4 linked regions of the Homo sapiens genome follow. The protein of the gene in region 1 purifies or fractionates together with the protein of each later gene. This does not show direct contact. Each region holds a gene or a part of one and is shown on either strand. Other genes may lie near its edges. The genes, in order: SERPINB13, C1orf198, TTC4 and ROR1.

What was found.
Region 2: the proteins of SERPINB13 (region 1) and C1orf198 purify together in Homo sapiens (co-immunoprecipitation; 3 studies listed by BioGRID and IntAct, with this or other methods). This does not show direct contact.
Region 3: the proteins of SERPINB13 (region 1) and TTC4 purify together in Homo sapiens (co-immunoprecipitation; 3 studies listed by BioGRID and IntAct, with this or other methods). This does not show direct contact.
Region 4: the proteins of SERPINB13 (region 1) and ROR1 purify together in Homo sapiens (co-immunoprecipitation; 3 studies listed by BioGRID and IntAct, with this or other methods). This does not show direct contact.

Annotation. Positions count from the first base shown.
Region 1 is NC_000018.10:63,582,553-63,590,497, reverse strand, and holds the start of SERPINB13 (serpin B13), read right to left. Parts: upstream 3,156-7,945; 5' UTR 3,048-3,155; intron 1,848-3,047; 5' UTR 1,831-1,847; coding exon 1,666-1,830; intron 843-1,665; coding exon 783-842; coding exon of another isoform or gene 756-782; intron 1-755. UniProt on the Homo sapiens protein: May play a role in the proliferation or differentiation of keratinocytes.
Region 2 is NC_000001.11:230,858,385-230,865,633, forward strand, and holds part of C1orf198 (uncharacterized protein C1orf198), read right to left. Parts: intron 1-7,249.
Region 3 is NC_000001.11:54,711,035-54,718,860, reverse strand, and holds the start of TTC4 (tetratricopeptide repeat protein 4), read right to left. Parts: upstream 3,001-7,826; 5' UTR 2,953-3,000; coding exon 2,842-2,952; intron 2,262-2,841; coding exon 2,144-2,261; intron 1,370-2,143; coding exon 1,208-1,369; intron 1-1,207.
Region 4 is NC_000001.11:63,769,523-63,777,255, reverse strand, and holds the start of ROR1 (inactive tyrosine-protein kinase transmembrane receptor ROR1 isoform 1 precursor), read right to left. Parts: upstream 3,240-7,733; 5' UTR 2,839-3,239; coding exon 2,748-2,838; intron 1-2,747. UniProt on the Homo sapiens protein: Has very low kinase activity in vitro and is unlikely to function as a tyrosine kinase in vivo. Receptor for ligand WNT5A which activate downstream NFkB signaling pathway and may result in the inhibition of WNT3A-mediated signaling.

The sequences.
Region 1 (7,945 bases):
GAGCCACCCACACGACCTAGCCTTTTGGGGTTGTGAAATGAGCAGCTCCTATTGCTGGGTGATCTGAGCCATGGTTTTATGAGGGTCTGGAATTGCACTATGACTACTGTCAGAGCAGCTGTGCCCTTCCTGAGAGTGCTAACGTCTGATCCTAGCCCCGACCTAATGGGCTTATTCCTTTCCCATATTTGAGTAGACTCTCCTTTGGATGGCGAATACAGGAACACTGGAGCTGGAAAAGACCTCAGGAAGTCATTGGGCCTGTAATAATTTTTTAAATACAACATCAGCACGGGGTTAAAAATATGAGTGGAGTTTAGCAATAATATCACCTACTGCTACTACCACCACCACCACTGGCTCAGTTGCCAGATGCCCCTACTGCGGACTTTACAGAGGCTGAAAGAAGATAAATAACTTGCCCAAAGTAGCATCGCTCTTAAGTGACTGAGCCAGGACTTGGACCTAAGTCTGTTTAACTCCAAAACCCATCCACTCTGCTATGGGAACTTTTCTGTCTATTAGCCTTTACCAGTTCTATCATAGCGGTATTGTCCATTACACCTAAGGTCTCTTCTCAATATTAAGGGGTTATTATTATTGTATAATCCTTACAACAATATTTGTCTATGGTGATTATTATTGCTTAATAGTAAAGCAACAATATTGCTTTCATGCCTTTCTCAGTCCTTTTCCCCAGAGACCCCACACCTAAAATGCAACTCTACTGAAGTTTGTAAAACACATCTCCCCACCTCTTTTCCTTCAGCCTTTATTCTTACCACCTCTTTTTCTTCAGCCTTTATTCTTGAGCTCTTCGTCTCTTTTTCAGAGTGAAACACCTGGAAGAGATAGAAAATATTACTGTGGTGCTCAGAGAAGAGAAAACCTCACACAGAATCAGTCAGGGGAGAGTGGACGCTTCTGAAAGAAACCTCGGTGGTATATGAGGTGACATTATCTCCTTGCAAAATCAGAAAAAGGTCTGCGTTTACCTCTGATTTTTCGTGTGTGTGTGTGTGTGTGTGTGTGTGTGTGTGTGTGTGATGGAGTTTTGCTCTTTTGGCCAGGTTGGAGTGAAGTGGCATGATCTTGGCTCACTGAAACCTCTGTTCCTGGATTCAAGCGATTCTTCTGCCTCAGCCTTCCGAGTAGCTGGGATTATAAGCACCTGCCACCACACCCAGCTAAGCTCATGCCTGTAATCCCAGCACTTTGGGAGGCCAAGGCGTGTGGATCACCTGAGGTCAGGAGTTCAAGACTAGCCTGGCCAACATGGTGAATCCCCTTCTTTACTAAAAATACCTCTAATTTTTTTCTAAGGAACTCGTATTGGCTTATGTGTTCCTGTGTTCATCTTGGATGTGTCATTTTTACCCTTGTGGGGATTATGTCACTTTTTCCATAAGTACTTGGACAAGGTTACGCAACCAGTCTCTACTCAAAAAAATTTCAAGCATCTGGGAGCAGGTGGCGAGATGGTATTTGGAAAAGGAAGAGGGCTTTCCTGATAGACCTGAAATTGCTCCTTGTCTTGAAAGTCTCTGTTTCCTGGTCCACAGGTCAAGAAGAGCGTATTTTTAAGATAATGCAAGAGGGCTGACAACCCCCCCGCCAAATGAATTTGTGCATAGGAAACAAGGAAGCCCCCTGACTGCGCCCAACCTCCTCCAACTGGGAAGCGGTGGCTCCTCGGGTCCCCAGGAGGACCATGCCAATTGCAGTCAAGATGCCCACAGGGGAAAAGAAGATGTTGCCATCATTTGTTTTCTTCAGCTCTTTGAAAAGATCAAACCCAAGTCGAGTGCTGACGGCGCCAAGTGAATCCATGATGATTTTAGCGAGACCTAGAATAGCAAGAACAACAATCAAAACTGAACATTTGAATTACTCTGTGTCAGGGGAATCCTTTCTGCTTCTATTCCTCTTCTTGCATCGATCCGGAATACAGGGATTTCCACCCTTTTGGTGAAAGGTCGCTGCTGCCTGCTTCTCACGTCCTCTCTTGGCCTTCTCTTGCTGGGAGACATCCATCAATCTACTGGAGTCTTCCGTCATCCGGTGGTGCTCAGTTCTTATTTCCCCGCGGAGCAGGGTTAATGTTTTAATGGCTTTATTCTCTTGCTCTCTGTCTGACCCTGCCTGTCTCTGCCTCTCCACAGCCTCCTCTTCATGGAAGCTTCCCCAGGTAGACCCAGCCCTTGTCCAGGCGACACCAGTTTGTCCAGATGTGGGGCCCATGATAAGGCAGGGGGGTAGGCACAAGAATCTCCACGGGCCTCAAGTTCAAACAGTGCTCTCAGATCCAACCTTAGCAATAATTAAGCCGAGACTTGAATCCTTATCTGATACTATTTCTCAATTGATTCAAAATTCAGCCCAGAGAGTGACAGGATTGATTAAATCTCTTAAACCCCTTTCCCTAACTGCATACAAACTTGACTCTGGGCTGAATTTTTCTGAAGCAGAAACCACATATCTCTGGTCATGAATTATTAGGTGGAGATGAAAGGGTTTTCTTTTTTATACTTTTCTGTATTGTTTTAGGCTTGTACATGAGCTTGCATTACTTTTGTCATTTCACAAAAATAGTTTTTAAAGAGCAATTAATATTTGCCAAAAATAAATAGGTAGAACTGTTTTTATGTTTGCTTCATTACCAACTACTTTAAAACTAGTAAGTAAAGGCTTTAGGAGGAATCCTAAAACAAGAATAAGATTAATGAAAAATAAAGTTTTTTAAAGCCCACATACTTTGGGGCCTTTTGCCCTCAAGGGCTCATCCCCGCTAAGGCATCCCACATCTGATATCAAAGCTTTCATTTCAACCTCAGGTTTCCTTGCAGAGATCCTTTACAGGTTAACTCAGAAATAAAATGGATTAATTTACTGTCAAAGAAGATACATTGTCATGGCCATGTTGGAACTGAATTAAATAAAACTACCTCCAGAAAGTCTATGCAAAATAAAAGTAATTCTTTCAAACAACAAACATCATTGTTCTCAAAATACAGAGGTCTTAAATTGGAGCCAAAATAAGAACTTACCTCGGGTTTTTGGAGAGACGGTGGTGGCTGGGCAACGAACTAGGAAGCATAAGTCAATTAAGTAGCTGGGATCCTTAATTTATAGTTCTCCACATCTGCTTCAGCAGTGGTTTTCCACCTTGCGTGCACCTTAAAATCTCCTTGGAACTTTAAAAAAAATCTATGCCCAAGCCCCACCCCAGACCAACTGAGTCAGCATCTCTCGAGTGGAAACCAGGCATCAGAATTTTTATCACCGCAGGTGATTACAATGTACAGCCAACGCTGGGAACCAAAGGTGTATAGCCTGATGAACACATACATTAAATGCATACTTTACTTACCACAGATGGACAGAGCTGTGTCCTGACAAGTCATTCTCTGTAACAGAGTTATTTTTGCATTTGCATTATTTAGGAGTGCCAAATGCCAGGAAGAAAATGAAAGAAAACTATCTTGCTACAAAGGAACAAGAAAAAAGAACAAGAAAAGTTTGGGTAGGCAGCCACACACAAGCGAGCATGCGCACACACACACACGCACACACACATACACACACACACCTATTATTCTCAAGTATTCCATCCATTAATTGTAAAATATCTCATTTTAATTCATTCAATAAACATTTATCAAGTCTATTATGTACCAGGTACTGTGTCTAATGCCAATAATTCATAAGCACTCAATATCCTCACTGATTTCAGGAAAACAACACTACCAAAAAAACTCAATAGGAAATTACACCCCCAGATTCCAGTTTTTCCTGCCAACCCTGGAGCATTTCTACTGGCCCTACCAGTTCATTAAAAGAAACTGTGCTTGGATTAGTCTTAGCTTTAATCTTCAGTAAAGGGCGTGGAGATTTGCCATCGTTGCTGGGCAGCAGCTCCTAGAAGGGTGTCTTAGCTCTTCCTTCTGCCTAGAGGAACACCTCCCTAGATACGCAGGCTCGAAGGGCATATGGGTCATGTGTGTTCCAATCTCCATACTCACAATTTACTTTTTTCAAAATATTTTGATTGCTGCTCTTTAAGCAAACTCAAAGCCACATTTAGTTGATTTGCTTTTTAATAGGCACTGAGAATCTTGCAAATTGAGTAAGGTTTAGAAAGAATTAACACTTAGTGAACCCTGGATGCCAGTGAAATGGAAATGTTAGTTTTTTAAAATGGCATAAAATCTCTGAGTCGGCCATAATGCTTTATGTTTTAATATCCCTATCCATTTATATCTTCTTATTTCTTTCTCTGTGGCCCCTAGACTTCCTGTTCTATTGCCCAGCCATTTCCACAGGCCTTCTGCTTTTTGCTAAAGCTTTTGCTCTACCACCTGCTTTCACCGGGAAACCTGGCATGTCCTGAGGACTACTACATCCCATAGTCTTTTCTGGGAACGGCCACTCATATCTTGGGAAAGCAAAGTCACCATTCCTATTCTCCCTCGCACTCCCTCTTCTTCCAAGTCTTTCTTCCTTCAGTCACCTTCAATGCTCCCCTTTGGAAACTTAGACCATCACGCTGTGCTGCTCTGTCCCCAACCACAGGTCCCTCCGTGACTCTGCATATGGTCTTCCTGTCCACCCCAGCTGCTACCGCCACCCTGTACCACTTCACCATTCCTGTTGCCAGCGCCTCTCACTTCTCGGACCTTCACCTTCCCTCTTTTATAGTGGCCCACTCACACCAGGAACTGCTCTTGTTTAACACTCAAGCACCTCCATCTGGTGACAGATTCTCATCCTTATTCTCTCTAAACCTAATTTTCAACGCCTTCCCAACCTCTTATCACAGGACTCCTCCCTGTTCTGTTTTATCCATCTCTTCTTTCTAGGATCAAAACTGCCCCAGAGGTGGAATATATGTTGATGATTAAGAACCATTTAAAAAATGATTTCTATGCTAACAAGTGAGGAGAAGAAAGTTATCCCCTGAAGCAGAGTATTGATAGGTTCCCAACCCTGTTCCATAGCTCATAGTTTTGTTCCAACTTCTGTGTGTCTGTTACTGATACTGACTTGTAATATTTTTCTTCTCCAAGCATGTAATCTCGTAGTGGATGCTGCCGATGTTCCCACCAGATTTCCTTAACCTACCAGCATGCCTGTTACCCAGTTGTTGTTTTCCCTTATAATTCACAGATGCCCTTTTCTCGGCTAAAAGAGAGCTGCCTACGGGGGAAGCCAGGTACCACTCCATCCCCCGTGCCAGGGCACACCTCAGGCATGACTCACTGGCATAAGGGCATAAAAAGACAGCCCCTGGCTGGGCGCGGTGGCTCACGTTTGTAATCCCAGCACTTAAGGAGGCAAGGCGGGTGGATCACCTAAGGTCAAGAGTTCAAGACCAGCCTGACCAACATGGTGAAACCCTGTCTCTACTGAAAATACAAAAATTAGCCGGGCGTGGTGGCACATGTCTGTAATCCCAGTTACTCAGGAGGGTGGGGCAAGAGAATCGCTGGAACCCAGGAGGTGGGGTTTGGAGTGAGCTGAGATCACGCCATTGCACTCCAGCCTGGGCAGCAAGAGCGAAACTCCACCTCAAAAAAAAAAAAAAAAGAAAAAGAAAAAAAAAGACAGCTGCCTGAGTAAGACTAACTTTATAGTGCCACTTCTCCTCCAGACCTCCCCCACAAGATTAGACTGAAGCCAGTCTTTAGCAGAAACCACATGATTAACATTTCCCCTTGCCTTGTTCTGCTTCTTTCAAACAAGCATGCTCCCCATCACGCTTTTCCCAAAAATTACCTGAAAAATCCCTGTCTTTAGCTCTGCTTCTAGGGTGCCTCACCTATGACAAAAGTGTTGTGATATCTAGCCCAAGCCCTCATTATTTTTGCTTTCCAAAAATTTATTTGCAACCTTGCATATATTCTCTTTAGATAAAATTTTTAATTAGTTTATCAAGACCTATGAAAAACACTTTTGGGGTTTAGATCGGGACTCTTTAGAATTAATATGTTAAATGGGAAAATTTTTCATCTTTACATAATGAGCAAGCGGTATGATCATCTTACATGTCCTTCAATAGTTAATAGAAAGAAATCACGGGGAGAGAGACAAAGGAGAGAGAGAACCAGTTTTCTCTTTGTGATGAAAAACAAAACAAGCATGTTCACCGCCGCTGCTTCCACTCAAAATTGAACCAGAGACCCTGACAAGTGCAATAAAGCAATTAATTAACTGATGAATTAGATAATTATTTAAAAGGTAAGATAATTTAAAAAGAAAAATAGAATCATTCACAGAGGAATTGAGGTAAATGTTATGAGAATTAAAAAGTGAGTTTAGCAAGATTGCTGACTACAAGGTCAATATAAAAACTCAAGTGTTTTTAATATACTAGCAACACACAGTTAGAAACATTTTTAATATATTATTTAAAAGAGTATAAAAAAGCTATGTGAGGCTGGGCATGGTGGCTCATACCTGTAATCCAGCACTTTGGGAGGCCGAGGCTGGCAGATCAGCTGGGTTCAGGAGTTAGAGACCAGTCTGGCCAACATAGCAAAACCCCGTCTCTACTGAAAATACAAAAATTAGCTGGACGTGATGGCATGCACCTGTAATCCCAGCTACTCGGGAGGCTGAGGCAGGAGAATTGCATGAACCAAAGAAGTGGAGGTTGCAGTGAGCCGAGATAGCACCACTGCACTCCAGCCAGGGCGACAGAGCCAGACTCCATCTCAAAAATAATAATAATAATAAGGTATGTGAGGTAATACTATGTTAATTAGCTAGATTTGGTCATTATGCAATGTTCTATACTTCAAAACACCTTGTATGTGATAAATACATATAATTTTATGTCAATTGTTTTAAGATAATGAAAAAAGCATCACGTAACTAGTAAATATGAAAGATGTTTAAGACTCCATATAGAAAAAGATTAAACATAATTTAGAGAAATTAAGAAGACTGAGTAAATAGAGGGGTATATTTTATTTGTGATTTAAAAGACTCAATATTGTAAGGATGTCAATTTTCTCAAAATTAATCACTGCAATCTCAATCAAAATCTCAGGAAGCTCATTTTTTCAAAAAATTGGCCAGCTGATTCCAAATTTATATGAAATAGCCAAGGGCTAACAACAGCCATGACACTGTTGAAAGAGAAGGAGGAAGAGATAATACCTGCTCTGTCAGATAGCAAGGTTTATTATTAATTGTCAGAATGGTTTTTGGCAAAGGATAGATCAGAACAGAAGCCCAGAAAAATACTGATGCTCGTGTGCACCTTGATTTTGTTCAAGCTTGTTGCAGAGCAGTGGAGAAAGAATGGTCTCTTCAATAAATTATGTTCAGTTCATTGGATAATTACATGGGGGAGAAAGGAATCTTAACTACTACGTCACACCATATACAGATTTCCATTCTAAATGGATCACAGAGCTAATTGAAACACAAAAAAGCATTTACAGTAAGAGTAAAAATTAACAAACTGGACAACACAAAATTTAAAAGCTTTTATTAATCAAAAAACACTATCAAAGTTGGAGATACATATATATCCAAAGTTGGATATATATAGATACACCCCATGACCTAATAATTTCACCCCAGATATTTACCCAATATAAATGTGTGCTCATGGGCACCAAGAGACATGTGCCCATAGCAGCATTCATAATAGCCAAGTACTGGAAACCCAAATGTACATTAACAGCATAACACGTAAATAATGGTATGTTCACACAGTGAAATCCTACACAGCAATGACAATGAATGAACTAAAGCTACAGGCAAAAAAAAAAAAAAAAAAAAAAGATAAATATCTCAAACAATATTTTGAACAAAAGAAGCCAAATGTAAAAGAACGCATACTGTATGATTCTTTTTATACAAAGTACAAAAGCAGACAAAACTAAACTTCAGTTTACCCCTAAACAACACGGGGTTAGCGATGCCAACCCCCCTC
Region 2 (7,249 bases), on another chromosome or scaffold:
TGAATAAATGATCTCTGCACAAGCCTGGATATTTTCACAGGTTGATTTTCCTCCCCAGCCTCCACACCCCACACTCACACACCCCCTAAGACTTCACCGGCTCTTCACAGCTCTTAGTTCCAGGAGGAAGAACCGGCCATCCACAGGGTAGAGTAGAGATCCAGCTTTGGATCTTTCGAAAAAGGTAAATGGAAATCAACTGGCAAAGGTGCTCCTTCCATCCAGAATCAGACAGGCCACTGGCCACCCAAATGGAAAGAGGAAGTGCATGAACACCTGCGGGGCAGGCAGAGGGCAGGACCACTGACTGGCCAGGGTGGGGCATGATGGAGCTGGACTCCCCTGTTACTCGATATGATTCTAAATATTAATTATATACCTTAAGTCCCTTTGAAATCTGCAAAGATTAAAATAATAAGGCTTTTGGCTTTGGAAGGTGGCTCAATACAACACTCTGAGGAACGAAGACTTAGCCCAGAGCTTGGGGACAGTCAACTCTCCAGTGACTGCAACCCATATTAGCTGAAATTCCAAGGGGGTCACAGGAGGAGAAAGGGTCACACTGTGATTTCTCCCCTACTTAGTGTCGAGTCAATAGTCTTCTGTTTGCTCCAGCAAGAAATGAAGTCAAGGGGCAGATTCCTTGGGTTTCTGTAATTCTGAGCTCATAAAAAACAATAAAGTGCTTAACAAAAATAAACATGCCAAACAAAAATGTGATGGAAGCTCTGATGTCAGCCGTGGACTGCACGCTCTAGCCACAAAAAAGCACTGGCGGCAAGAACAGGCTCCCTGGGCTGTTGGATGCAAATGGAATCAGAATTGCAAAGTGGCGGCACCCACTCACACGCATACAATGCTGTCCTTTCTTCTACTCCCATGGTGACCAGCCTGCAACCAAAATGAGGCCAGGCACATGCTTTTGGACCAATCACATATGCTTTTTCTAGGACTGCTTGGAAGGCTTTCCCACCCCCCTCTCTGGCGCCTAGGATCTGAAATCATCTAAGTGTCAAAACACATCTGTTACTTAGGCCACACGACAAGAGAGTGGGCTTCATTGTTGGCCAGGACTTATCCTCAGAGTCAAATTCCGTAAGAGGCATCCATACCAAATGGGCAGCACTGAATCTCTCCAGAAACAATGACTTCTTTGGAGTGCAGAACAGAAAGATGCCCCAGGTCACCAAATCCCAGAGCAGAAAGCCAAAAAGCAGGGGGGAAGCTATAGAAAGCCACCAGAAACACAGAGCACTTGGCAATTATCAGAGGCCAGCGCTACATGTAAGAGGCTCTGCCAGTCCCCACGCAGCTCCAAGGACTCCGGGATAAACACACACACAAACAATCTTTTTCCCTAACATCCCAGAGACCTTGAGTATTTGCTCTTCTCTGGGAAATGTTCATTCAATTCAGTGTGCACCTCCTAAATCCTAAATGAAACAGAATTAAAAATAATAACATATATTTTTTGCTCATAGTGCTGGAATACATGTTTGCATCATATCGCCAGCGTTTACTTCTTTACTTGTTGATAAAAAAAATGGATACTGGAGGGCTTAAGAACTCTGTGGTTCCTAGACACTTTTATTTTTGGAGGCTGCAAGGCTGCAACCAGAGGTGTGTTGGAGCAGGCCTGCACCAACTAACGAGAGCTGATTGTAAAATTTTGAGGAATTTCTTGAACCTGTTGTTAAATATCTTGTTTAACTGCTGTGATTAAAAAGGTGAATTATACAAACTTGCAATTAAGTCCATTGTATTAAAAATAAAGGTAATATACTTCACACCCACAAGGATGGCTACTATCAAAAAGCAGATACTGGCAAGTATTGGTAGGATGTGGAGGCACTGGAACCCTTGTGCACTCTTGGTGGGAATGTAAATGATGCAGCCATTATATAAAACGGTTCGGCAGTTCCTCAAAAAATTACACATACAATTACCATTTGTTCTAGCAATTTCATTCCTAGGTATACACCCGAAAGAACTGGAAGCAGGGGCTCAGAGATCCTTATACCCCGATGTTTATAGCTGTGCCATTCACAATAGCCAAAAGATGAAAGCAACCAGGTATCCACTGACAGATGATGAATGCATAAACAAAATGTGGTCTATCCATCCAATGGAATATTATTCAGTCTTAAAAAGGAAGGAAATTCTGATACATGCTTCAACATGGATGAACCTTGAAGACATTATGCTTAGTGAACTAAGCCAGACACAAGGATAAAAATCATGTGATTCCACTTATATAAGGTACCTAGAGTAGGCAAAATCATAGAGACAGAAAGTAGAATAGAGGTTATCAGAGACTGAGGCCAGGAAATGGGGAGTTATTGTTTAATATATACAGAGTTTCATTGTTTAAAGGATATAGTTTCACTTTAAATAATACACGAGTTCTGGAAATGGATGGTGGTGATGATTGCACAACATTGAGACTGTACTAAATGCCTCGGACTATACACAGAAAAGTGGTTAAAACGGTAAATTTTATGTTGTATGTATTTTACCACAATAAAAAGTCATGGAAAGACATGGAGGAACCTCAAATGAATATTATTAAGTGGAAGAAGCCAATCTAAAAAGGCTACATATTGTATGATTCCAGCTATATGATATTCTGGAAAAGGCAAAACTACAGAGACAGTAAAAAGATCAGTGGCTGCCAGAGCCTGGGGGGCGGGAGGCATGAGCAGGTGGCACACAGAGGATTTCTGTTAAGGCAATGGATCCCCTCTGTATGATACCATCATGGCGTATACCTCCAAGAGCGACCCCTAGTGTAAACCAGAGACTTCGGTTGACAATGATAAAAACAATGCAGGTTCACTGATTGTAATCAGTGCACCACTCTGGTTTAGGATGTTGGTGGTGGGAAAGGCTGTGTGCATATGCACGTCTGTGTGTACATTTTGGGAAAGGTCTGTGTGGGAACTCTCTGTACTTTCCGCTCAATTTTGCTGGAACCTAAAACTACTGTAAAAACTGAATTTTTTTAAAGTGTGCCCCCCCCAAAAAAAGTAATAAACACTAGAAACTCATCATTTCAATACAGTTACTATTATCCATGGTCTTAAGGTTGTTTGCATCCATTGTATGTGTAAGGTGGAAATACCATATAGCGCGGTGCCCAGATATGCATCCCGTGAGTCACGCCAACAGCGTGCAACGGGCCATGGTGGAGTATCTGGTCATGGCAACCAGCAAATGCTAGAAGTCAGGGCTAGTTCGCCTCACTCCCCCAGAGCCGGCTCCAGCATACCACAGGCTACAACCATAACAAACATCCTGATATTCATCACATTCTGCAAGTGTTTCTGGTGTGTGGATGGATAGCGCCTGCAGAGGGAGCTGTCCAGCATGGGGGCTCCCTTAGGGCCTCCACAAGCTGTTCCAGGAAAAACAGCTAGGCGGGGAGTGAGGGGCTTTCTGGGGTGATTCTAAAACAGCATCAGGATCTTGGAACACGGCAACACGCGTATTGATGCCAGAAATGGTCATCGTCTTCCTGAAATCCATAAATAAGGAGAGTTTCTGGTTGACACCTGTGGCATCTTGGCTTGAAGGTAAGAAATGTAAACTGAGAAATTCTATAAGCTAGAGAAATAAGGCTTAGAGAGCAGAGCATGTGAGCAGGACAGAAAGTCCCATAGGTTGCAGAGTGTGTCACCCTGTAGTGATGCCAGGTGGCCTGGCCATCTTGGTTCATCCAGGGTGGAACACGTTGTTCCTGGTGAGCTGTGTCGTGCCCATCACTCCCTCAGAGATGCCAGAGCCTGTCCTGTGGATCAACTGTAAGGTTTAATTACCGAGTGACAACACTGGTTGTTGTCACTGATAATGACAGCACCCTGGACATGTTGACCAACTGAGGGCCTCCCAACCACAGCTCCATGCACAACTGTGCTTCTGCTATAGTTATTTCTATATTTATTCCTCCACAAATAAATATATTACAGGAGTGAGGTAATCACATTCCTTGGCATTTACCCAGATGAACTGAAGACTTACGTCCACACAAAAAACCTACACACAGATGTTTTACTCATAATTGCCAAAACTTAGAAGCAACCAAGATGTGTTTCAGTTATTGGATAAGTAAACTGTGATACATCCAGACAATGGAACATTATTTAGCAAGAAAAAGAAATGAGCTACCAAGCCATACAAAGACATGGAAGTACCTTAAATGAGTATCACTAAGTGAAAGAAGCCCATCTCAAAAGGCTGCATACTGTATGAATCCAACCATATTACATTCTGGAAAAGGCAAAACCATGGAGACAGTTAAAATATCGTTGGTTGCCAGGGGTTGGGGGGATGGAAGGATAAGTAAGTGGAACACAGAGAATTTTTAGGGCAGTGAAACTCCTCTGTGTGATATTATAGTGATGGGTACATGTCATTATTCATTTGTCAAGATCCATACAGTGGACAACCCAAGAGTGAACCCTAAACTATGGACTTTGGGTGGTAACGACGTGTCCATGTACGTTCATCAGCTGTCACAAATGCACCACTGTAGCGTGGGAGCCAGAGAGGCAATGAGAACTTTGTACCTTCTGCTCAATTTTGCTGTGAATCTAAAATTGCTCTAAAAAATTAAGTCTATTCAAAAAGAGGAGAGTAAGGAAGAATGATTAAAATATGTTCTTTTTTTACCAACTGCTTATTTTCAGCAAGCATTGTTTACATATTTATGGAATCCATGCTTTTCCCTTTGACTTGTAATATTTTTAACTCTGCTGAGATAAGGGGGTTTCCATAACTGGAAATACAACACTGCAGTTGCAAAGACAGAAAAACAGTCCTGATTTAACCATGGGGCATGTTTTCCACCATGAATACGAATCCAGAAACTCAAGCCTCCATAGATTACAGCAAAACAAAAACTCAGCATGAGCATGGTAATGGAAACAGGATACAGAGTAGGTGGAGGAAATGCTAAAGAAATGAGCAAAATATGACAGGAAGTCTAAACAAATAGGTCTCATCTTCCTTCATTTATTCAGAAGAAGAAGAAGAAGAAATAGATATTTTCTCCAGTACTATGGGAATCCCTTGCTTAGAGTGTAAAAGTGACTCTTATCAATTAAAAGATGACTCCACACCTGTCGCCATGCTTCCTGCCCTCCCTCCCCGCAGGTCTGTGACCAAGTCACTTCATTTCTTTGCTAAACCTGTTCCCTGGCTGCCACTGGGCCACCCTCCCACAGGAGCCAGCAGGCAGAGGTGCCTGGGGAGGAGAGGCCTAAGCTGCTGCCTGAGCTCCCAGGGCAGCAGGCCACGTGCTACTCAGGGCAGAGAACCCACAACATAAAAGGGAAGCTCACAGAACAGGCCCGACCGCCCTCTCCTCTCAGCCCGTGGAACTGGAATTGAAGCAGGGCCATCTCAACTCCTGCCCAGGGCCCCAGGTAGAGGGACTCAGAAAACCCTGCTATCCTTTCTAAAACATCCATGGATACAGCAGGCACAAGGTGGGAATCATAATTCAAACATCCACCTTCCTTAAAAAATGAGTCCAAAATGCTGAGAAAGCAACTCCCTAATTTTCTTTTTCCTTTTTTTTATTTTTATTTTATTTTTTTAATGTCAGATTTCAAAAAGAAAAGGCCAGTCTACTAAAGGGAAAGGGGATGAGGAAACTTCATGTGTCATTGGTCCTGCATTGAGAGGCCACACAGCAGCCAAACTCAAATCTAACAAAGATGTAAGGCTCAAGAAAGTTCTGAAGCGATTGATTCTACCAGCTGTTTTATAATGCTCCTTCTGCCTGGTTTGAAACTTTTAACAATAATGTACAGGTAAAAACTTTTGTAATAAATTGGTTTATTTTAGAAAGCAAACCTCTAGGCTGGCCAGCACACAGGCCCCTAGGTTTGCAGAAAGGTCTTTTGCAGGTAGCCCTAATGACACAGAGCGGGTGTAGCAGCTCAGCAGTTTGCTAAACATAGGTACCCATAGCCGCCTCTAGCCTAAGGACTAAGAAGCCACAGGCAATGCAGCAGACATAGGGAGGCAAAAACAGCTTCAGAAAAGGAAGCTAAGGCCAAGAGGAATAAGAGAGCAACAGCAAGTCCTCAGGTTCCTGTAGGAGGAGCAGAGATGAAGGCACTGGAGGGACACGGCAGTGGATCATGCCAAGCTGTTGAAGAGGGGACAGAGCTGTCTGGCTCCGGGTTCTTTAAAAATCCACGTTCCACAACATGTGAAACCCCGATTAGGGATATTGAAACACCCTTCTTGCCCAGCTCCACCGTATGGAGAGATGGAAGAGGCAAGTAGGTCCACGCGAACAAGACGCACCAGCTGCCAAAGCTCCCCCAGTCATCTGCTTAGGGCCCATCTGGAGCCAAGAATGTATCACAGAACGCAGAACCCTGTAACTCTCACCATGTACTCAGATCTTGCTAGATCAGTGACAAGAAGATTGGGGGCAGGAGCAGGGAGGAACACATTCCTAACAATTCAGAGGTGTGTGGGGTTTTCTCCTTGCAGATAACAGGAAACAGCAGAAGCAAACAGGGTGATCCCTCTAAAATAAAAACTTTTCCCCTCCCAAACTAAGCCATTCCCGAAACCCTACTGCTGGAGGAAGAACGTGGCAATCAAGCAGCGTGGGTGAAAGACTGTCAAAAGCATCCATTTGCAAACCTGCCTTAATGTTCTTACCAAAATACTGGACCCAAAGTGCACGGCCCCAGTGTCTGGGCCTGCTCCAAGCCAGACCAGCGAGTTGGAAAGAAACTCTGTGAGCCATTGGTTCTGCCACCAGACTTCACAGAGAGGCAAACTACCCCTTAAGAGGGGTGGCACCTTGCTGCTGGCATGGCCAGGACAAGAATCCAGGACATGGGGCTCCACCGGCTCCTCTCCTTTTGCTGGTTGAGAAGCGTTCTTCCAGCAGCAGCTCCAGATTCTCCACAAAATGGGGTTGGGTGGCTGTGGGAAGGGGCCGGGGCCTAGGTTGAAGCTATACTTCCATGCTTTTTTACTGAGATCATATGTTCACACGTGGGGATTTTTAAAGGAGTTGGTAAAGATTATGGGAGGATGAAGTACCCTAAGCTAAAATGCCTTGTCTCTAATATAATGGGCCTTGAGAAATATTTGCTCTGTTGATTTCCAAGGAAGCAAGAACCTAAAGACTGATAGGTCCCTTCACGGCTTCAATACTCAAAGGCAGCAGCCTCCTTCCCTGAGGAGAACCAGGTTAAGTCATCAAGGCAAGGGGCCATCT
Region 3 (7,826 bases), on another chromosome or scaffold:
GAGCTCAGGAGTTCAAGGCCAGCCTGGGCAACATAGCGAGACCCCTGTCTCAATTAAAAAAATAAATTATTTTTAAAAAAAACCCACAGGTCTAACATAACCAAGACTAGTCACCAGCAATACTACTTAAATAATCATTTCCCAAATTTACGACTACAGAACCTGCATGATGTTGGTGTTACCTGAAGAGGAGGCTTACAAAATTTGAGAAACCCAGGGTAAATTTATTTTCTTGCAGGCTATCTCAGTGTCTTTAACATGTTAACATGTACTGTAAATCTCTAAGAAGCAGCATTTTCCAAACTTCCTCAATCTCCTGGGTGCGGTGGCTCACACCTGTAATTCCAATACTTTGGGAGGCTGAGGCGGATGGATCACTTGAGCCCAATTTCGAGACCAGCCCGGGCAACATGGCAAAACCCTGTCTCTACAAAAAAATGTAATAAAGTAAAAAATATGAATAAATAAATGAGTTAAAATTCCTCATCCAAGCAACTTTTTAGAAACAGGGTCTCACTTTGTCACCCAGGCTGGAGTGCAGTGGTGTGATTATGGCTCCCTGTAGCCTTGAGCGATCCTCGTGCCTCAGCCTCCCAAGTAGCTAGGACTACAGGCAGGCACCACCATGCCCAGCTAAATTTTTGGAGAGACAGGGTCTCACTATATTGCCCAGGTTGGTCTTGAACTCCTGGCCTCAGGCGATCCTCCTGTCTCAGCCTCCCAAAGTGCTTGGATTACAGGTATGAGCCACTGCACCCAACCAAAAAATATTTTTAACTCAAAGGTCCCACAGAACGCTTTGAGATATTCTCCCTTAGATTAAAATAGCTTATCTCACCTAAAGATCTCTACTGCCTTACTCCTGCTAGCATCCTTGAAAAGAGGATAAAAGGCCAGAAAAACACATTTTTTGAGAGAGTAGAAGCCCTTGGGCTCAAAAATCTCAGAACATACTGCCTCATACATCAAACACCTTACTTGAGTGACCAAGTCACTTTTTGGGTTGAGACAGTAAGAATTACACAATCCATCCTGTTTCTCTTTTCATCATGTCAACTTGGAAGACCAGAGTTCAATCAGAGTAAACTATCCTTAGTCTGGGTTTCTGGGATAACAGCCCCTCATCCTCTGATGTTCTCAAACCTCCACTAACCATCATAATGGCTTGTATCATAAGTTTATTCTTCAGAAAGCACTTATAAATTACCCAGATAGTACTGTGCTGCTGCCCGGTTGGTATAAAGGACAGCATTCAAATCAGGATCTGCACATTTCTTCTTTAAGCCTTCAGTGTATGAAATTACAGCTTTCTTGTAGTCTTTTTCTTTAAAGTAATCATTGCCCTCATCTTTATAGGTCTTGGCCTGTTCTGCAAAGAAGAGGAAAAATAATCACTATTGCTTACTTTTTAAAAGGCTCATTAAAAATAGATTCTAAATCATGTAATAATGTACTATATGACACACCAAAGCGAAGAAACCAATAGGGAAAGGAAACTCGATGTTATGATAAAAGTGGGTATCAACATGGACAAAGTCGCACAAATGTAATGCTAATTCCAAATATCTTACAAGGTAGATTACTAAGTGCTTTCCAAAAAAAAGAAGTATAAAGGAAAAAAGTACACTCATCCTAGCTGTTGAAGAAAAGAATTTTTTTTAATCACTGAAGAAATCAGTGAGGGGCAGGGGGATTGATTATACTTCTGCTTTTGCTTATGTTGTTTATTCTGTGGAGTGCAAATTCCCCTCCTCACCCTAGTAAAAGCCTACAAAATTACAAAGATTCAGCTCAAATTTCCTATCTATTGTGAATCCACTCCTGCTCCTTAAAGTGTTCCAACAGGACCCACTACAGCTGTAGTATACACCTACATGTTGACACTTATAGCATAAGTTTGTCTTGATTCTTTAAGACAAAAGGCTTCTCACTGAGCCTGACCTTGGAGGGTGGAACTGTGTCTTATTCACCCCTGTATCCCCAGTCCTTACCACTTAGTAGGTACAAAAAGAAGTATATTGGAATGAATAATGACAAGTTAGCTCAGGCTAACTACTTCTTGTTATCAATCAGAACGCTTCTAACCCACACTTAATTTCAGTTCAATGGAAACACAAAACAAATATTAGTCATGTTAAGATACCTTCTGGAGAACGCTCCTCATCAAAAATAATTGACTGGAGACAAGCCAAGTCAGGATTCTCCCTGGGATCAATTTCTGATGGCGCTCTCGACATAAATAGGGGGACCTTTTCAAATTCCTGTAAATGGTTAAGAATGAACTACATGAATAAGCTTTTCTACTGAGCAGATCCAATTCCATGACTCATTACCAAAGTTTTTTTACTCATCATGATTTGCAAATCATCACAGCTAGCTGTATCCATTCAGGCCTCCGCTTCCCTTCTGTAAAATGGGAGTGTGGTGTAATGGTCTCTAATGATTGTTTTAGTTCTCACATTCTACAAGAGCGGCAGGAATTACCATTAATTGAGCGCCCTTATGTTCTTGGCACTTTACCAACTGTCTCATTTCATCTTTGCTATTGGTGATATAGTTCGCGCAGTTTTACAGATGAGGAAACGGACTCTGAGAAGTTAAGTAACTGACTCATATCAGAGCCAGTTAAGTGGTGGAGTCACAGGCCTGACTCCAAAACCTAGGTTCTCAGCTTAAGAAGCGACTCAAAACCTCGAGGCCGATTTTCAATACTCAACTAGAAACCAGCGATCGGCTGGCAGCGCCAGGGATCTGGGATTGAAGGAGGTGCCCCAGAGCCCGGGTGCCCCACGAGTCCGGACGACGCCCCTACACACGTGGGGAGACCCCAGGACCGCCCACCTTCTCCCACTGGTCCTCATGAAAGCCGCCACGGTAAGGCTGGCTCTGGAACTTTTCCAGGAACGAGTCCATGACGTCGTCTGAGGTGGGATCCTGCCCAGGTTGTTCCATAGCTGATGCCCTGCCTTCCAGCCCGGGTCCCAGCGCCGTGAAGCGAGCGGCTCCTTCCGGCGGCGCGGGTTCCCTTCCCTCAATCCTCCCGGCAGCGCAGGTCCCCGCGCCTTGGGTTCCGCCGGCCTGGGGGCGTGGCCGGGCGTGGCCAATACGCTCCTCCCCCGGCCCGCCCTCCTCGGCAGTGCCTGGCCTCGCCCGGCCTTCGAATGCTTTTGGGGTGGTGCGTGAACCCGAATCCCCAAAGCCCCCATCTCACTTCATTCATTTGTTCGTCAGTCAGTCAACACATACTTACTTAGCTCTTTCTGCGCTTCCGGCCTGTTCTAGTGGCTGGCTATATAGCGGTGGGCAGAGCAGATGAAATCTCTGCCCTCTAGGAGTTGCTAAGGCAGTGGGGAGGAAACGACAATAGTTGAGATGTAAGAGTTTGTCAGGGGTAGCAAGAGCTATTGGGGAAAAGTTTTAAACAGGATGGGTAGACATTCTGCCAGAGGCCTGGGAGTGACTAGGAGGGGTCTGGGAAAGGCATTCCCATGGAAGGAACAGGGAACAGTCCGGAAGCCTGATGCGGGAGAGTCTTCTGTGCTTGGGGAACAGCAAGGAGGCCAGTGGGGCTGAAGCAGAGTGAGGAAGGGGGCAAGGAGATGATGAGGTGGGAGGACAAAAGGGCTGTGACTATGAGGATTTGGCTATTTCCTCAGTGGTATGGGACCTTTTGGAGAGTTTCGAGGAAAGGAGAGACTGATCAGACCTCTGTCTCTGAGCTTAGCCACCCCTAACTCCCACAGTTCAGATGGAAAAGGGTCTTCGGTCCAGGTGCTGCAGGCCTGGTTAGGCAGCCGCTGTGGCTTCCTGCAGCCTCTCTACCGGCCAGCAAATGGCTGCAGGTCCCTGCACCGGGGCTACAGCCTTGGGGAGCTCCTAGCCTGGTCTGGAATGAAAAGCAGACAGGAAGCACACCAATCTAAACTGGCATTGGGTCACAGGTCTGCTCAGTGAAGGCTCAGAGGGGTGGGATTCAAGGTGATGCAGAGCTGAGATCAGAGCTGAGGAAGGTCTCTGCAGATGGATAGAGGACTCAGCGTTTTAGGCAGTGGGAGCTCATATGTGGAGAGAGGCATGGAGGTGTGCACAGGCCCGCCATGCTGGGTACTGCAAGTGTTAAGAGGTGTGTCCAGGGCCGGGCACGGTGGCTCACGCCTGTAATCCCAGCACTTTGGGGGGCTGAGGCGGGCAGTTCATGAGGTCAGGAGTTCGAGACCATCCTGGCTAACACAGTGAAACCCCGTCTCTACTAAAAATACAAAAAATTAGCCAGGCGTGGTGGCACGCACCTGTAGTCCCAGCTACTGGGGAGGCTGGGGCAGGAGAATCGCTTGAATCCGGGAGGTGGAGGTTGCAGTGAGCCGAGATTGCGCCACTGCACTCCAGCCTGGGCCACAGAGCAAGACTCCACCTCAAAAAAAAAAAGAGGTGTGGCCGGCAAGTGGGTAGGGGCCAGAAGGCCTGCCTGCCTCACTGACCTTGGTCCTGCAGAGGATAATGAGTCACTGAAAAGACCTAAGAGGAGCAATGGCCGTGAGCACATTTGTCTTAGGAAGGCCTGGGCTGCCAGGTGAAGCATTGATGGGGGGAGGTTGGTTAAGAGATTGACAAGGAGGATGCTGATAAGAGACCAAGGTAAGACAGAGATCTGAAGCCCAGCAGTGGAGCTGGCAGGGTAGTCATTCTTTGATATGGGGATGGAGACAGCATGGCTAAGGATGGCGCATGGGGACCATGAGCCTTCCAGTGCCAGGACTTTATCTTTTCCCTTCTGATTCTTCCACACCCAGCAGAACATCTGGTCCTAGCACTCCCTTCCCTCCAAATCCAAACCTCCTTTTCCACACTTCCTCCTCCAGCCCTGCTCCCTAATCCTGGTTCCCTCCCTTATTCTCCTCTTCATCATCTTTTCCTTTACTGAGTCCAGAGCCTACAGAGTCTTTTTGCTTTCTTTTTTTTCTCATTTGATTCCCATAAGAACACTGTGAGGTATGAACCCATTTTATAGGTAACAATAGGGGAACCTAAGAGAAGCAAAGTGACTTGCCCAGCACACTCTGAACCTTCCAACTCAAAACTACTTAGTGGTCTTGGCCGATAACTGAGTCGATCAGCCTTTGCTGTGCTTAGGGGCCACCCAGACCCAAAATATAGCAGCTGTCATCTGTCAAGGCCACCCTAGACCTGGGTCCTAGCCCATGAAAGCAGAAGTGGTTCTGGGTGGAAGGGTTCAGGTATAGGAGTCTGGAGATCTTCGGGACCTACACTTCCATTAGTTACCTTGCATGACCTTGGGCAAGGCCCATCCCTCATTAAGCTGTGTCCTCATCTGTGGAATGTGGGCAATAAAGCCAGTCTGCCTTCCCCATAATCCAGTCTGCCTTCCCCATAATCCAGTCTGCCTTCCCCATAATCCAGTCTGCCTTCCCCATAATCCATTCTGCCTTCCCCATAATCCACAGGGCTACTGTAAGACTCCAAGGAGGCAATGTTTGTGAACATTCTCAGTGATGGAAAGGATTGTGCAAATGAATCTCCCCATTTCCTACTCTCTCTCTCAGGCCCAGAATACCAATGGCCTGGGCTACCATTTATTAGAAGATGATTGTGTGGTCAACATCATGGGTTCCTCACCCCCAACAGGAGCTTAAGTTAGGTGCTCCACAGGCTGATGTCTCTGCCCACTCTACATACTCTCCCAGGGAAATTGTACCCCAGCCCCTACACACAGATGAATCCCAAATCTGCTTCCTTCTCAGGTCCCTCAGCTGAGCTCCACCCGTGTCCCTTTGTGCCCGCCATAGTCTATTCAGGCTGCTATAACGGAATACCATCAACTCTGGTGTGTAAACAGCAAACATTTATTTCTCACAGTTGTGGAGGCTGGGAAGTCCGAGATCAAGGCCTGGCAGATTCGGTGTCTGGTGAGGGCCTGCTTTCTGGTTCACAGATGCCATCTTCTCAGTGTCCTCCCATGGTGTGAGTAGTGAGGGAGCTCTCTGAAGGCTCTTTTTTATAAGGGCACTAATCCCATTCACTAATCCCTAATCACCTCTCAAAGGCCCCCACCTCCTAATATAATGACCTTGGGGGTTCGGATTTCATATGAATTTGCAGGGACACAGCATTCAGACCACAGCGGCAGCCAACTGCCCTGTGGATATCTCCACTAGCTTGCTGCACAGTCCCTCAAGCTTACCATGCCCATATTGAACTCATCCCCTGCCCCACAACCTGCTCCTGGTCCTGGGTTCACCACTTAGTGTGGGCTCCATTGGCTTAGTCATCCACCCAGAAATCTGGGTGCCAAACTCAGCTCCTCCCTCTCCCTCCTCCCTCCTCCATTCTGTCAACCACTAGGCTCTGAAAATCCCCTTCCTCAGTCTCCTGCAGGCCTGGCCATCCTCTCCATTTTGTGCTGCAAGGTCTGGTCACTGTTCTCTCAGCAGTTTCTGGCTAAGTCTCCCTGATGGTGCTCTTGTCCACCCTGCCATCCAGCCCTTTCACTCCATGACATAGTGAGCTTCTTCTGCTTCCTTTTTTATTTACTCCCTTTTATACCCCAAAGCCCTCCTCCTTACCCTAATCAATCATTCTAGCATGTTTTATTAGCATTTTTTTGTTTTGTTTTATAGAGATGGAGGTCTCACTATGTTGCCCAGGCTGGTCTTGAACTCCTGGCCTCAAGTGATCCTCCCACCTTGGCCTCTTAAAGTGTTGGGATTACAGGCATGAGCCACCACACCTGGCCTCTAGTGTGTTTACTGTGTCTTCTCAGTTTCTAAGTGTTCTTCCAAAATGTGAATTCTTTTGTGTGTACATTCTTTTTTTTTTTTTTTTTTTTTTTTGAGATGGAGTTTCACTCTTATTGCCTAGGCAGGAGTGCAATGGCGCGACCTTGGCTCACTGCAACCTCCGCCTCCCAGGTTCAAGCGATTCTCCTGCCTCAGCCTCCTGAGTAGCTGGGATTACAGGTATGCGCCACCACGCCTGGCTAATTTTGTATTTCTAGTAGAGACGGGGTTTAACCATGTTTGTCAGGCTGGTCTCGAACTCCTGACTCAGGTGATCCACCCGCTTCAGGCTCCCAAAGTGCTGGCATTACAGAAGTAAGCCACCGCGCCTGGCCAACTTTTGTGTATACATTCTTGATACACTTTTTCCCCTCAGCACTGGGTTTTAGGTCCCATCTGGCAGCCCCGAACTGCTGTGCAGGGCTCCACGGCACACATACTCTCCCAAGGGGTGGATACCCAGGCTGCCTCCTCTCCCCACCACCACAAAGAACACTGATCAACTTCCTCATGCATCTCTCTTTATGGACCTGTGGAATATTCCCCCGAGCTATGTATCCATGAGTGGAACTGCTCAGTCGTGGGTATGCATGAACTTAATAAGACTGAAGTGACCGAATAATGACAGATTTCTACAGATTCCAGAAGAGCGGCACCAATTTACCATCTTACCAGCAGTGCCTGAGGGTTCCTGTATCCCCAGGAGGAGGTGCCTTCTAAAGCAGGCATCTGTCTACATCCCTCCCCTGCTTAGCATCCCACAATGCCTTACCACTCCTATCTGGATGAAGTCTCCCTCCTTAACACAGCCTCCAAGGCTTCCGTGGCTCTAGCCTGGAACTCCTCTCCCCTCTCTCTCTGGGCTGTGTGCACTGAAGGACTGCAGTTGTTCCTTGGTTCCATGTGTCCTGCTCCCTTCCATACATGTTCTTTCCAAACCCCCTGCAGGGGAGTTTCTTCCCTCAGAAGCCTTATCTGACACCTCACCGCCTGCTGGTCTATGTACCTCCTCTGGACGCTGAAGCCCGCATG
Region 4 (7,733 bases), on another chromosome or scaffold:
AAGCCACCTCCCTCTGGCTCCCAGCAGCCAAACCACAGAATCTATAAGATTTTGAGAAAGGCCAGGTAGGTTCCTAAAGCCCTGGGCTTGGGTGCAGTTATAAGGTAAGCTTCAGGTTCCTAAAGAAGTTGAGCTTTGCATAGGGAGGGGGTAGATGAGAAATCAACAATGGACAGACCAGAAAAAATAAATTTAAAGGTTTTCTTCTCCTGGCTAACAAAATAGAAAAATGATGGGAGAAATGTTTTGTATCTTTTTAAATAAATACATGAAACATATCTCCGCTTAAGCTGATTTCCTGAGCCACTGGCTGGGCTACCTTAGGAATCTTGAGTCCAAGAGGAGAAAGTAAACGTGAGTTCTACCAGAAGTCTTGACCCCAGAGAAAAGATCAAACATTCACAAAATGGAAAGGGATTTATAAAACAACAAATAAGACAATAATAACAGATTTGAGCTCATTACTAAAGAGTATGGTGAGAGAAGAGAGACAGACCCTCTCATATTGTTTTATATTGTTTTATACTCAGAAAAGGAAAGAGAAGCGAAATTAAAGGCAGGTAGCCCGGCACCTAGGAACCAGACCTGAAACCAAGGAACCAGACCCGAAACCAGGCCTGGGCCTGCCTGACCTAAGCCTGGTACTTAAAGATCGACCCCTGACATAACTGGTTATGTTATCTATAGATTCCAGACATTGTATGGAAAGACAGTGTAAAAATCCCTATCCTGTTCTGTTTCGTTCTGATTACCAGTGCATGCAGCCCCCAGTCATGTACCCATCATGACCCTCTCACGTGGACCCCCTTAGAGTTGTGAGCCCTTAAAAGGGACAGGAATTGCTCACTGGGTGTCTGAGGAGTTTTGTCTGTGGCTCCTCCTGCTACAATGGAATAGGCAATACCTTTTTTAAACAACTCTAAAAGGCTGTAAACAGTTAAAGGAGACAGAATTGGGGTGGCTGCTGATAAGAAGGGTGTTTACAGTGAGCAAAATCAATGCAGGGACATGTATTTAAAGGTAAGTGACCCCCACCCCCACAAGGGGCTATGATCTAAAAGCAACTATTGTTGAAAGGTGAAGTACAAAGTAAAGGAGTCCACAGGGGAAATAACTGAATTAACCAAAGCCCCAAGCCAGGAGTCCCACCTTAGTTAAAATCACCCTGCTTATCTCCACCTCAATTTGCTGGGCAACCCAACTTGAGAAGGATGTTTACATTACTTAGGCAGCATGGCCCATTTTTACTTTTCACCCAGGTGTTGTGGCGCAAGGCCAGATGTTTGGCATCACCAAGCAAAACATCTATGTGACCAAGCTGTTTACATTTCATTAGGATTTTTCATCAGGAAGGTGCACTCCCTGCTGATGCACATCTTAATTACAATTAGGAGCTCTATTTACCCCCAGGAGCTTTCAGATTAGCACGACCACATTATAGGATCCGTTTCAGAAATCATCCTCAGAAAATGCTACTCTAGCTTCCAAAAACCATCTCTAAGAAATCAAAATTTCACACAACTTCCTTCCAGAGTGTGTTTTCTACCAAGAAAGTCAGCTAACTTTTAGTAAAAACTAATTCTGCATTCGTAGTCTATGTAGTGAATACATCTTTTTCCTCTCAACTGCTAAGTAGCGCAGAACTTTTTCTTTTCCTAAACACAGTGCTAACTTAAAAATGAAAGATGCATGATAAAAGAGCAGAGATCTATTTATCCGCTCAGGTTTAGGGCTGGGAGTGGGGGAGGGCAGAATCCAAAGGCTCCTCACCCCCTCAAGGGATGCATGTTAAAAGTGAGGCCCGAGACCCCGGAGACTTTAATCAACTTTCCCCCTCCAACCTCCAAAGAATGAATCGGTTGTCTCCACAGGCTCAGCCGGGCTCTTCCCTCTCATTGTGTACCGGCTCAGACGCAGCAAGGACCCCAGCTTCCCGCAGCGAACTAAGACGCTCCGGCTTGCGGTGAAGTCTTTCTCTAACTGTTGCGATTGTCTTTAGAGATTACCAAAATCAAATATGCATTAGATGGCTTTTCCCCCTCTTGTTTGTAACACGCACACACACACGCGCGCGCGCGCGCGTGCACACCCAAAGCACTTTGGAGCCGCAGGCCGCCTCTGACAGCACATTTTGCACAAAGTGGCAGCGGCTGCAGCGGCGCACAAGTTTTGGCCTCTATGATGACTCTCGGGAGGGCCGGAGGGCCGGGGGCGGTGGCGATGCGAGGCCGCCGGAGCCCCAGGAGGACAGGGCTTTTGTTTGCGTCGATCCGCGAGCCGCCTGGGCTCTGGCGAGCACCACTGAAAATCCAAACTCCCTCCTGGACCGCGCCTTCCGGGCCGGCTCGCAACTTGGGGGCAGGATAGACTTGCCTGAACACCGGCTGGGGCGCGCTAGAGGTCCAGGGAGACAAGGGGGGACGCCCTGCACAGAAGTGCCCCGATCACCCCCAGGACCCTCAAACCCCTCCACGCTTCCTGTCAGCGCTGACAATCGCTGCTGCGCACCGAGGAACGAGTCCCTGGGCGCGCCCCGGCCCGCCGCGGGGCTCCGGGGCAAACCCTGGCCTGGCGGGGCTCCGGGGCAAACCCTGGCCTGGCGGCGCCGGCGAGCCCCGTGGCGGGTGGCCGGACGCGCCCCGGAGCCAGCGCGGCGCTTCCTGCGTGTCCCGCGCCCGGCTGGACGGCGGAAGGGTGGCCACGGGTCAGGGGGTCTGGGCGGGCGGGGGCCGGCGGGCGCCTCTTACCTTGGGCAGCAGCCCCGCGTGCGGCCAGCAGCAGCGCGGCCAGCAGCGCCAGGAGCGGCGGGCGCGTCCCGCGGCGGCGCGGCCGGTGCATTCCTCCTCTCGCTGAGGCGGCGGCGGCGGCGGCTCCCAGGCCGCGCGCAGAACATCCACGGGCTCTTCCCGGGCTCCCGGCCGCCTCGTCCCGGCCGCTGGCGCTCGCAGGACGCCGGGGACGTCTGCAAAGCTCTTTGTCCCTCTAACCTGCTCCCTCGCCTCCGCCTGGCCGCCTCTGGATGCCGCGAGCGCGATCCCTTCCCAGCCCTCTGGCTGCAGCCTCGCCTGGGCCGGCGGGTCAGTCCCAGGCTGTCCGGGTCGCACCAGTGGGCGTGAGTCGCCCTGGGTCGGACTCCGAGAACAGCGCACCCTGCGCCCAGGGGCTGCCGTCCCGGGGCTCCCTCGGCGGCGGCGGTGGCGGCTGCTCCAGCTCTCCACGCTCCCTCTCTCGCTCAACTTGTCACTTTCCACCAACTCTCCAGCCCAGCGCCCCAGCCCCGACCAATGGGAGACGCGGCCCAGGCTGGCGACCCAGCGCCCTCTGCTGCAGCCTCTCAACGCCCGCACCCTCCCCGACTTCGCAGAAAGCGGTCGCGGCTCCCGCGTCTCGGGCACGCTCCCTCCCCTCCCCTCCCCCACACTCCTCAAACTCGCCACCGAACCGAGCGCCGGGGACCTTCGAGGCTACTTGACAGAAGGGGAAACCGAGGCTCAGAGAGACTTATCCGGGATCTCAAGCCAGTTCGTGGCTGGACGACAGTAGACCCAGGTTCTAGCAGCCTCAGCTGTGTCACTGTTAGCTGTGTGACTCTGGGTAATGGCACATTTATTGCTATCATACAATTTCCCTTTTGCTTTCTTCTTGGACCCAAGAGTTGAGAGAGTTCTTACACAAGTAATTTATACTTCGCCTTTTTGTCTTTAATTTGTAGTCTCACTGAATTCAATGTCATCTGTACTGCCTCCTGGCAAGATTTATTGAGGATTATCTGTGGTTATTTTTGCCAATGTCCCATGGTTTTTTGAAAGGTGTTTTTGTCTTCCGAATGTGAAGATAGAATACTGTATCGATTTATCTTCTTTGTATTCATTATTTTTTCAGGCCTTCTGAATCTTTGCATGTTTGTTTGTTTGTTTGTTTTTTGTCTAGCTGCTCTGCCATGAGCCAAGGGATCATTAAAGACCTCTACAATGAGTGTGTTTTTGTCCATTTCTCCTGGTTTAACTTTATGGATTTTGTAATTCATAAATACCCATAATGATTTGACTTTCCCTGTAGAGACTGCCTTTGATCATAAAAAGTGGTGAGCGCCTGCTGTTTTCAGGGCTGTGCTCTAGGCTCTGAAGATGCAAGGGTAATAGGACACCTGTCAGTCTTGCTCTGGAGGAACAGGAAGAAGCCCATAGTCTCTCAATAATCACGTGGCCACTTACTAAATACCTCCTGTTTGCCTTGTGTTTTATATGCATTTGCTCACAAATCCTCCATTGACACTAAAAAGAGTCATTAAAAGTATATACTTCTTAGCTGTTTTACATATATTATCCCCATATTACAGTTTTAGAAATTGAAACTCAAAGGGAAAGTAAATGACTTGCCCACAGTCTCACAGACATGGGGTAGCCAAGCCAGCACTCAGGCTGTTTCCACTGAGAGAGTTAAAGCCTGTAACCAGAGCCTGGCACATGATAAGCACTCACTCGGGAGTTGTTGCTGTTGCAGTAGCCTCTAAGAACCCAGCTTTAGGGTTTTAAAATGAACAGTCACTTCATGGAGGGCGAGGACTCTGTCTCAATCATCTAGGTATCTTGCTGGCCTCTAACAGTACCTGGAATGCAATAGGAGCTCAATTAATGAACAAAGGTTAGGTCACCATTTGGAAAATATTAATTTCTCATCATATTTGTTTTATAGGGGTGCATGGAGGAGGGACAAAATTTCATCCATACTCCTTGGCACCAGGAAAAGCAGATCCCTGAGAGCTGAGACATTAGAAGGGGGAAAAAATGCAGCCCAAAGTATGTCCCAGCAGGTCATGGACTCCAGACTCCCAGCCCTTTGCCTTCAGGCAGGTGAATGACTAACCCATGCGGGACAAACAGTCACTTATTCTTCTCCAGGACTTCATGGCAGGAGCTGTGTCGGTAGTTTTCCCCCTTTCTATCGCTCTGACCTGAGGTCAAAAAATGATAGACAGAGAGGCCTTGGGTCAACCAGTTCATTACCTACATTGATCTGTCCCCCAAGTTTCTCTGCCTGAGATCTATTCAATCCTGTCCCAATTATCTCGCTTCTTGCCTGAGGAACTTACTGCACAAGGTTCTCTTGTTGGGAAACAGTCTTTGATGGTCAGTCTTAGTATATCACAGCCCAGAAATCAGAGGATACTCAGTTACACTGCACAGTGCTGGGCAGTCCTCTGTTGTCTACAGTCAATACACACAGTTGTCAGACAAGGAGCCTTTCTCATCCACCCACCCTGCCCCCAGCCCCCACCCTATAACTCCTAGGCCCAGGTATCTTAGGTAACAGACAGCTGCTAGTGCTGAGTATACAGAACTTAATGGCACTTTTATCAGTACTTAAACTTCCAGGAACTTAATCACAGAATCATAGACATAAGGAATGTGAGACCTGGAAAGGGCTTTGGAAATTAACTAGTACACCCCCCTCAACATTTTATACAGGAGACATGTGGGACTTAGGAGAGTGAAACCGCCTTGCCCAAAGCTGGCCAGAGCCAAAACTAGGACCTAGACCTACCAGTCCAGACCTGGGTAAGGACCATCATCAAATCATCCCAGATTCCTTCAGTTTAGCTATAGCACACAAGTTTCCAAAGAAAAGGTTAGCAATGGCCTGGCACGGTTGCTCATGCCTGTAATCCCAACACTTTGGGAGGCCAAGGTGGGTGAATTGCTTGAGATCAGGAGTTCGAGACCGTCCTGGCCAACATGGTGAAACTCCATCTCTACAAAAAAATACAAAATATTAGCCAGACGTGGTGACACACCTGTAATCCCTGCTACTCGGGAGGCTGAGGCATGAGAATTACTTGAGCCTGAGAGGCAGAGGTTGCAGTGAGTGGATATAGCGTCACTGCACTCTAGCCTGGGCAACAGAGCAAGACTCCATCTCAAAAAAAAAAAAAAAATGCTGGGGTGGGGGGGTGTTAGAAAAGGCTTTTCCTGTTTAAAAAAGTAAAAGAGGTAAAATATATATAATATGCAAAATATATATATGTGTATATGTATATTTATTTATTTATGCAAGTTCAGTAAATGCCAATGTTTAAGAGCACAGGCTGGGGAGCTGGGCTGCTTGGTCTCAAGCTTCAGCTTCTCTGGTTTCTGCTGAGTGACTATGGACAAATATCTTAGTTGCCTGTACTTTTGTTTCTCACCTGTAAAATGATGATGATAATAATAGCACCTATTTCATGCTGTGGTTAGTGTTAATTGAGTTAACTCTTAGAAAGTGCTTTTATGAGTATCTGGCACAGAGAGACACCTAATAAATGGCAGATATTATCGTTATTATTATTTACTGCATGAACCTACTTATATCATCAAAATAAGGTTGGTCTTAGCCCATTTTTAACAAATGGGCTAAGTGAAGTGAGTTTTTAAAACTTGCCCAGAGTCAAAAAATTAAAGCAAAAAGGCAGGACTCCATCCCAAGTCAAATATCTCTCTACACTATACACCACTGTCTCAAACCCCTGGTGGGCTATGATAAAAGCTCCAAGCAATCTAAATGTTCCTCTCACAAGCCTCTTTTGGCCATGCCCTCTCTTTTAGGAAGCCAGAAGTTGACACAAATGGATAAGAGAACCCAGGTGAAGCTACTCACTTCCCAGGGGCCTGGCACAACCTGAGGTACTGGCTGAGGCTCCTGCTACTTACAGAGGCACTCATCTCCCCTGGCCTCTTGCACTGGCACACACGGTTCTGTTTATTATCACTGTAAGGCATAGTGGGAAAATGGAACAAGAGCAGGGCAATAGTAAATCATTGGGGTCAGGTGCCAAGGGGAGCATTAAATAGAAAACTATCTTTCATTTCAAAAACTTGCTGGTGGGAGAGACTCATTTGGGCCATCCGCTTGATTTACCCAACAAATACAACCATTAATTATTCTTGGAGAAACGGTGTAGTGTGATGCTTACCAGGAAGAGTTCAGGAGCCAGACTGCATGGATTCAAATCCTGCTCTGCTCTTAATAGTTGTGAGTACTGGGTCCCTGTATTTTAGTTTCTTCATCTGTAAAGAGGCATAATAATAATACCTACCTGTAGCTTTGTTCTGAAGATTAAATTAGTTAATACCTGTAAAGAATTTAACATAGTACCAGTTACACAGTAAGCAGCCAATATTTATTAGCTACTATTGTTAGTGATTAAGAGAATGGACTCGGGCTGGGCGTAGTGGCTCACGCCTGTAATCCCAGCACTTTGGGAGGCCGAAGCAGGCGGATCACGAGGTCAGGAGTTCGAGACCTGCCTGACCAACATAGTGAAACCCCATCTCTACTAAAAACAAAAAAATAGAAAAATTAGCCAGGCATGGTGGTGTGTGCCTGTAATCCCAGCTACTTAGGAGGCTGAGGCAGGAGAATGGTGTAAACCCAGGAGGAAGAGCTTGCAGTAGGCCGAGATTGCACCACTGCACTCCAGCCTGGGCGACAGAGCGAGACTCCATCTCAAAAAAAAAAAGAGAGAGAGAATGGACTCTAACATCAAACGGAGCTGGCTAGATGACCTGAACAAGTTGTTTAATTTCTTTATGATACAACATTCTCACCTGCTAAAAGGAGAGAGAGACAGATAATAGAACCAATCATATAAAGTCATTTTTAGTATAAAATAATGTACTTTATACTTTGAATACAAAAGTCACAAAACAGTGTTTGGGGAGCTGGGCATGGTGACTTGTGCCTATAATCCCAGCTAC